Regions from separate parts of the Homo sapiens genome. Here regions 1 and 3 are each linked to region 2. The links come from fine-mapping of genetic effects on gene expression. A gene starts in region 2. Each other region holds a variant in brackets. All regions are shown on one strand. Distances are between the middles of the regions.

Region 1 (2,763 bases), 620 kb before region 2:
TAAATACTGGATTCTCAACTCCTCTCTTGAATGAGTCCCTGGATCTTCTTGTCTCCTGCTTATATAGACTTCTGGGGAGAAAGGTGGTCCCATGATGGTTGGGGTGGCAGAAGCAGCTCACATGCTTCTTTATGATCCCTAAAAAGACTGCTTAGCAGATCTCTTTTTGTAACTATCTTTATAAAAGGGAGTATTTCTTGTCTCTAGTAGCCATTTCCCAAGCCAATAGGAACTACTCTGTAGCATGTATGAAGCATAGCATATTACATATTAGCCATCATCATCATCCTCTCAGATGGAAACTGGACTTAGAAAAGCTGCATCACTTCCCCCCAGGAACCACAGTTATCAAGTGGCAGAGGTGTGAATGGAACCCAGACCTGGCTCCAAAGCCTTCTTCCTTCATCAGGTTGCTTTACCTGCAGGCTATGGGAGCCTGTTTGGTGGTCAGAGGGACTTGTTTTTAGTTCACAGGCTGGTTTCCTAAAATTAGTAAAGGTTTATTAGATGGCAACGTCTATGTTTTATTATCCAACATAAATTTTATTACTGCGTTTAATAAAAACCTCCTACAGTGTCTGAAAGTAGTACTACCCTTATTATTTTGCTAGTGGTCTTTCAGAATTATTTTGTAGTTGTGGTTCTTGTTGGTATAATGAGGATTCATGTGGTTTTCCACCCCTGAAATAGTCTTAAAAACAAAAGAGTTTTGAATTACTGATCTAGAATATGAATTTATGTTGTTGATAGTCAATATTACCAAATCTTTGGTTTTCTCTCTGTTAGTGAAGGAAAAACTCCGGGTAGCACACACTTCATTAAAGCGACTCAGTTCACTTTTGAAAGCCACATTCTTTTGAACTTTATAGTAGATTTCCAGACATTTATATTCACCAGTGTTTAGTTAAAGTGAGAACTAAAGCTTGTGCAGACACCATGAGTGGAATCTAAACCAGCTTTGGCTACTTCCAGAATCATAAGAAAAATATTTCCCTTTAACTCAACTGAAAGTATACCTTCCACATCTGGTTTTGTCATCATTCTTTAATGTTTTCTGTATAATGGATAAGTTTATAGGGAGAATACCGGAAAAAATATATAAATGCAAGCAGCTAGTCACAAATGAAAAACCTCCAAAAGATAATATGATGCAGTCAATATCACACTTTTGGAAAAAATGGGATTACTTGTGCCAGTAGTTTGGACATCTAAGTCAGGATTGGAGAGGCTCAATATCCTAGCACTGGATAATACCCCAGAGAGGAAAAAAAACGCCATCTCAGAACCGTACATGCCAAACACATCTTAATTAAAAATATTTTTCTTTAGAGATACATTGTTTTTCCTCTCTTATTTGATCTAGATTTATTTTTCCTGAGCCCCACCTCACCCCTCCCGCTTCAGTGGCCTGTTCATCAGTCACCTGGGAGCAATTCTGGGTTTCCTCCATTCCATTCTCAGCACAAGGCTGTGGTCTTTCTCCTTGAGGACTACAGAGATCATGGGACTGAAATGAGCTATCAATCCATGAAAAGACATGGAGGAAACTTGAAGGAGAAGTTG[T/C]GGTGGGGCAGGGACTTGGGGCAAGGCACACAGGGAGGAGGAGACAAAACAGATACAGAGGTTGGAGAGGGAGACTTTGTGCCCTGCCACAAAGTCATACAGCTGGGGAAGGACAGCAGCTTTTCAAGGCCAAGTTTAATGCTTTCACCACTTCTCCTGGTTGATGGGGAGAGGAGGACCAGCTAGGTCTAAGGACTAGTGGAATATTTCATATATAATTATTTGAAGACACTTATTTGATCAGTTTCCCACTAGACCTTTAAATTCAGAGATTCTCTGTTGGCTGTGTTTATTTTCAAGTAGCAATTTGGCTTTCCCTAGTGTTAATACCTTACTGAACACCTTCCTAACAATGAACGACGTTTTCCAATATTTTTCTCACACTGGAGTCATTTGAAAATCATGATAAATTAGTTAATATCCACAAGTGATTTTAGATTGGGTTGGATTCCAGTCTAAAATTACCTGCATATTTTTCCATGAGGAGTTGTTAGCTCATGGAGCAAGTAATCTATGTTCTCTGTCAGCCCAAGGTGTCAGCAAGTGGAAAGAAATCAGACCCCTTTGTTGATTGAACACACAAAATCAGCATTCATGTCTCCTTATGCCTACAGTACTAGGGGCTCTAGGCACTTTCATGGGTGTGTGAAACATACTTCCAGGACATGATAGAGTCATAACGTTTGTGGTCTGTGCAATGGTCACCACTTCAAAACTCATCTCCAAGGAGCTACATTGCTCTATTTACAGACAGGAAGCTGGATCCCAATATTAGACTTCCATGCTCCAGAAGAGAAGAGAGAATACATTTGGAAATAAGAAATTTAAAACTGAATGAAAGAAAAGAATATCGGTATATAAGGAAAATTATGATAATACATTTGTGGGAAACAGAAAATCCAAGAAATTTTTCTCAGCACATTTGAAAATTTTGATAAGGTATGATGGAATTTATTTTCAGATAATGTCAATAAACTCCATTATTCAAGGATGGAATAATAATTACATTTGTTGTGGTAAATCCATACAATGGAATATTATGCATTGATAAAAAGAAATGAACTGCCAAGCCATGAAAAGACATGGAGGAAACATAAATGAAAGTAAAGAAGCCAGTCAGAAGACCAGAAGACCACACACTCTATGATTCCCACTATATGATATTGTGGAAAAGGCACAACTATGGAGACAGTAAAAAGA
Region 2 (2,763 bases):
CAGACTCCTGGAATTCGGTGGGACATCCTGGGGGAGGGAGGAGGAGTCCTGGGGCCATCGGTCTCTACGTGATTTCTCCGCGAGAAGTTTGCATGAAAGTTCTGGGGGAGTTGGGGAGCCCCGAAGTTTCCATGCCTTACTTTCTTACCCCTACGCTCCAGCGAAGGATGCGTGAAGGCGAGGCTGGCGCAGCCCCGGACTACGCTCAAATTACCCTTAAGGCTTTAGCAAACTGACTAAAAATTTGAGTTCTTTCCTCCCCTCCCTGCCCTCGGCATCGCCGTGGTTATTCAAACCTGGGAGACTGGAGGGCGGAGGTGACGGCAAAAAGGGCAAGGGGCGTTAAAGAAACGCACTCAGCCTGGGGAGTGGGCAATGATGGGGCTAGGGGCAGCCGAGGAGAAGGGAGCGAGCCGCGCTTCACTCTCCAAATCGGCTTAATTGTTCCTGGTAGCCCGCAGAAACCCGTCGCGGCGTGTCTTACCTCGGCTTCTTGAACGACCCGAGAAGACCGATTTCATCGGATGCCTCCCTTTCTGGAGCTTGCGGTGCCAGCAGCAGAAGAAGACGATGGTGGCGATGGTGCCCAGCAGAAGCAACAAGAGGAAGAGGGCACATTGGATGCTGTAGGGTCTCAGCAAGACGAGGAAAGCCGCGGCGATCATGGTGCGGGCGAGGCGAGGGCGACTCGACGGCGGGGCTGGAGGGCGGCGGCACAGGCACCCGCGCTGGGCGCACGCCGGGACGGCGGGCACGGGTGAGCGCGGCTCAGCGCGTCATGCCTGGCGCTCGCGGCCCCGCGCCCAGCCCAATGGCTGCGCACCCCGCGCCAGCCGCGCTACGCGAGTGATCCAGGGCTGCGGGGAGCGCTTGCCATGACTCAGCAGACAGCGACGAGGCTGCGACTCGGCGGCTGGGATCCTCTCCCCTCCCTCCCCAGGCGCCCCCGCCCCCGTCCGTGCGCAGCCCCCGGGCGCAGCCCCGCCGGGGACGCGGCGAGTGGGGAGGAGCAGCGCCGCCGCCGCGGCCGCCCGGGCCCCGCGCATCGTCCTGCGGCCGCCGCCGACCTCAGCATCCCAGAAGCCGGGCGCACGTGGGTCGGGGCGGGGACGCGGCGCTCAGGCTGCAGCCGCGGCAGCCTGCGGGGGGCGGGAATGGGGCGCCGCGGCGGGGGCTCGGCTGATGACATCACGGCCAGGCTGCGGCAGCGCGGGCGCGCGGACATGGCTGCGGCGGTTTCGGCGGCGTCCGCGGGCTGCACCCGGGCCTGAGAGCCCAGCGCCCTCCCGCGGGGCCGCCCGCCAGTCCGCGCCGTCCGCGGGTGCATTGGCCGGGTGCCTCTAGCTTCCCGGACACCCGGAGCTTCCGCCTATCCAGCCTCCCTCGGCCAAATTGCTGCGGAGCCCGTCGTCAGGGGGCGCCAAGGAGCCAGGGGGAAAACCGAGAGGCGCTGACAGGAGCCTCCCGGCGGTGCTACCCTCCACCTCCCACCTCCCTGCGCCCCGCCCCGAGGTTGGGGCTTTGAAGAATGCAGCCGGGTGAGCTATTGCTTGTGGGGGTTTCCTCGCACTCTGAAGCGCGAGCGCCGGGAAGGGCCTTCCCTGGGAATTGGGATACTCCAGGAACGGGAGGCCCACTCCTCTCCAAGCCTCTCTAAACTAGGAGCGCTCCGGGGTAGTACGCTCTGGTCGGCAGAGGTGAACTCTTCCACCCCAAACTTGGTGCTTATCTCGCAGCTAAGAATTGGGCACTTTCGATCTTCTTGTATCCCTGGGTTTGCCCTAAAACCCTGACTCATTTAGTGCATTTGAAGGGCAAGGCGATTTCAGATTTAGGGACCTGGCAGATGAAGTAAGTTGGTACTTGGCTTATAAACATTTGGGGGAGAAATTTTTTAGGGAGTGTGAGGCAATAGTGATCTCTCACACTTGCAGGCACACTCTGTCTCCCCTTTGTCCCCTCCCCACGTTTCTTCATAACCAGCAAAAAGTATATGGCAGTTGGTGGCCAGGGGATTTAACACTGATGCAATGCCAGCACGGAAGGTATAGCGAGAGCGCTGCAGTGTGCCTTTCTGCGGACGGCCACGGCCACCTGGCCAGGAAGCGGCTGCTGCAGCAGTCATTCTGCGGCATCTTGCGGCCTTGGCGGGCGGTGCTGTGCCGCGTTCTGCTGCCCCCAAGGCAATGCTGGCTTTCCCTGTGTGGGGCTGGATTGTTTGTTTCATTTACTCGCATAAGAAAACTTTAATTATAGTGACAAGGTAACACTTGACTGCATTTGCGGAGTTTCTTATAACAACTGTATTAGCCTCTTTTTTGGAATATTTAATAGACTGAAGAAATTGTGTCATAAAAATTTATAAAAATTTGAAAAGCAGGTAAATAATTGGGAGGAATAAAAGTTTTATTTGCTTGTAGTGATCTCAAAATCAGTGTTGTTTTCCAACTATACAAAACCGTACAGCTCTGCATGAAAGCTTAATCATTGATGTCCTTAAAGCCAGTAACATATTACCGTGTGTAAGTATTAAACCTAAAAAGGCATTGGTTAATGCAGTCTCTTAGTGCCAGATTCATAAGCATGGAAAACAACAGATACGTTTTGTTTACAGCTGGTTTCCTTAAACAAAATAAACATTCGAATTGTTGACATGTTGCATCTCATTCATTCAGTTGTTTTGGATTGAACTCAGAAGGGCCCTTGCTTGGAGACACTGCATAAGGTGGGAATTTTGAATGGCAGCATGTAGGCTGCACTGAA
Region 3 (2,763 bases), 480 kb before region 2:
GATGTATTTCAAGTGATGACAGTCATCTTCACAGACATAAAAATGCAGAGCAATCAAACCTTGTTTGATTAATGCAATGTGAACATAATGCATCCACATTTAATGTGGATACCTTAATGTGGGTACCTTGTACCCACTGAAGCCAGGGAGGTGGAGGTGGGTGAGATCACCAAAAGAGGGAACAGAGTGAGAGAAATAGAGAGCTGAGGATAACACCTAAGGAGTAAGGAGAGCTGACATTTAGAAGGCAAAAGGGAGGGCAGGAGTGAACGTGAGACAATACCACGAGTGTAACCCCACAGAGGACAAAGAAGGAAAGTTTTGCAAAGGTCACAGAGGGTTCCTGTAAAGAGAGGTTTTAGGGCAGTTGCAGAGTTGGAAACACAGTTGTAAGGAGCTGAGGAGTCTGAAGAAGTGAAAATAACGAGAACAAAGCAATGTTTTGAGAAGTACAGCAGTGAAAGAAAGAAAATATCTGAGATAATGGTTAACAGGAGTTAGGATTATATTTATTTTACCTGGTGTTCTGCAATGAGTGCTTTCACCTCTTCGATCTCCTGGGGGATGACTTCTTTATCCTTATCAGTAAGTGTAGTTTCAGCCCATTGCAACCAAGCCAGCAAAGCTTCCAACAATTCCTGTTTGGCAATAAGCCCAGCCAGAGCACTTGCTAATCTCTGCTGATGTTGCTTTGCCCAGGCCAGCACCTGTCAGAGAAACAGAAATTTCTCTGAATTTCCTCCAACTTAGTAAAATAATTGCAGTGATGTAAAATAAATAAATTTTAAATGAAAATTAGGATCATCCTGAGCTAGACCCATAATGCTTCTGGTCTTTTTAGATTCCATTAGTGGCATCAAGATCTGGCTTGAGGAGGACATGAGAGCCCACGATGATGTTCATCATCTTCAGAATTTAAAGATGCATGTCAATCACTCAGGCTTCCTTTTGCTTTCTAATTTGAGTTCAAATATGCATTCTCTGAAGGATCAGGTAAGCTTACTCCATGTGGCACAGAGTAGAAATGTAAAAAGCTAAGATACTGGCAGGGCGTGGTGGCTCACGCCTGTAATCCCAGCACTTTGGGAGGCCGAGGTGGGCGGATCACGAGGTCAGTTCAAGATCAGCCTGACCAACCTGGTGAAACCATCTCTACTAAAAATACAAAAAAATTAGCTGGGCATGGTGGCACGCGCCTGTAATCCCAGCTACTCGGGAGGCTGAGGCAGAGGAACTGCTTGAACCTAGGAGGCAGAGGTTGCAGTGAGCCGAGATCCAGCTACTGCACTCCAGCCTGGGCAATAAATCGAGACTCCGTCAAAAGAAAGAAAAAAAAAAGCTAAGATATTAAATACAGAATTAATTCACTTTATGTATACCAATTCACTCCACCAGTATATACTGCTCCGAAACACCATCCAACTGCTGGATTATTCAACAGAAACAATGTGGAAGGAGGCCAAAATGTTATACAGTGTACTAAATATTTGCCTTCTAATTTTCCAGGGACATAGCTGCAAAATTTCTTTGAGCTTTTAAAGAAAAGTGAATTGCAGAGATTGTAATGCATACAAGAAGCGTATTTAAAAGAACGTTTTCTATGTAGAGGTCTCATTTTCCCATGGCCATAAGTGCATCTTAATTCCTGAAATTTCCCACACCCCTCAACTCTCAAAGCTATTGCTACTCTGAAGATTATCTGAGACA[C/T]ACTGACCTCCTCAAACCTCGCCCGGATGATTGTTATCCAGTGCTTAATGGTAGTGATGGAGTCGGGGTGGCAGATAGCCAAAACGGTGTCGCCCATAGTGGTGGCTTTATTTAGTTCAGCTCTCTTTTCTTCCAGTTTCTTCATGAATTCCTACAGCAGAAACAAAGACTTCAATTAACTGTTGGCATTGGCTGAAAACAAAACTCTGGTGGCATTTGTTTGACTGCCAGAATTAAACAAATAAACAAAAACTTCAATTGGTTTATTCACAGTGAAAATCATCTACTAATTGGGGAGGAAAAGGGGACAAAATAGAAAACAAAGTACTTTCTAACATGTACTTCAAAATACAAGTACAGTCATCCCTTGGAATCCAAGGGGAGTTGGTTCCAGGATACCGTGCATAATAAAATCCAATGATGCTCAAGTCCCTGATATAAAATGATGTAGTATTTGCATATGACCTAAGTACATCCTCCCCATATGCTTCATATCATCTCTAGATTACTAATAATACCTAATACAATGTAAATTGTTGTAAATAGTTGTTATACTGTATTGTTTAGGTAATAATGACAAGGAAAAAAGTATGTATATCTTCAGTACAGATGCAACCATCCATTTTATTTTTGAATATTTTTAACCATTTTATTTTTGAATATCTGGATACAGAGGGCCAACTTTATAGGATATTTCATGCTTCAAAAACTGTATTATACAAAAAAATAACTCTCCCAAATTTAGATATAATTATGTTATTAATGGAGAATAGCATTGGGAGAGACAGTATTGCTAGAGATAGAAACAATACTGATTGACCAAAAATAAGTTCTAACAAATAAGGTAAGGAGGTTAATATTTAAAATAGCATTAACTATGCCAGGAAATATGGCAGCATGAATAAAAAAGTACAAAGTAGAGAGAAGCCTGGGTAAGGAAAGATAAATGTTTGGGGGTATGGGAGAGAGGGCCCAAAGTGTCTATGCAGTAAAAAGTGAAGGGGAGGTTGGAAGAGTGAGCCTGACAGCAGGTCAGCCCATGTGAGAACTGTCCCT

What was found.
Region 1: its variant is fine-mapped to the expression of BEND6 in kidney cortex (GTEx, PIP 0.94).
Region 3: its variant is fine-mapped to the expression of BEND6 in coronary artery (GTEx, PIP 0.97).

What each region holds. Positions count from the first base shown.
Region 1 is chr6:56,338,793-56,341,555 of GRCh38, forward strand. It overlaps a transcript of COL21A1 not described here. Among named protein-coding and RNA genes, the nearest start is that of COL21A1, 93 kb to the left of the region's middle. The variant T/C (reference allele first, on the strand shown) is at 1,564.
Region 2 is chr6:56,953,923-56,956,685 of GRCh38, forward strand. It overlaps BEND6 (BEN domain containing 6), which reads left to right and starts at 1,185. Exons shown (of 7, transcript NM_152731.3): 1 at 1,185-1,538. DST (dystonin) reads right to left here and starts at 908. Exons shown (of 104, transcript NM_001374736.1): 1 at 485-908. The coding sequence starts at 665. RefSeq lists an enhancer at 1-522 and a silencer at 684-1,373.
Region 3 is chr6:56,475,631-56,478,393 of GRCh38, forward strand. It overlaps DST (dystonin), which reads right to left. Exons shown (of 104, transcript NM_001374736.1): 91 at 1,715-1,858; 92 at 519-707. Among named protein-coding and RNA genes, the nearest start is that of COL21A1, 230 kb to the left of the region's middle. The variant C/T (reference allele first, on the strand shown) is at 1,708.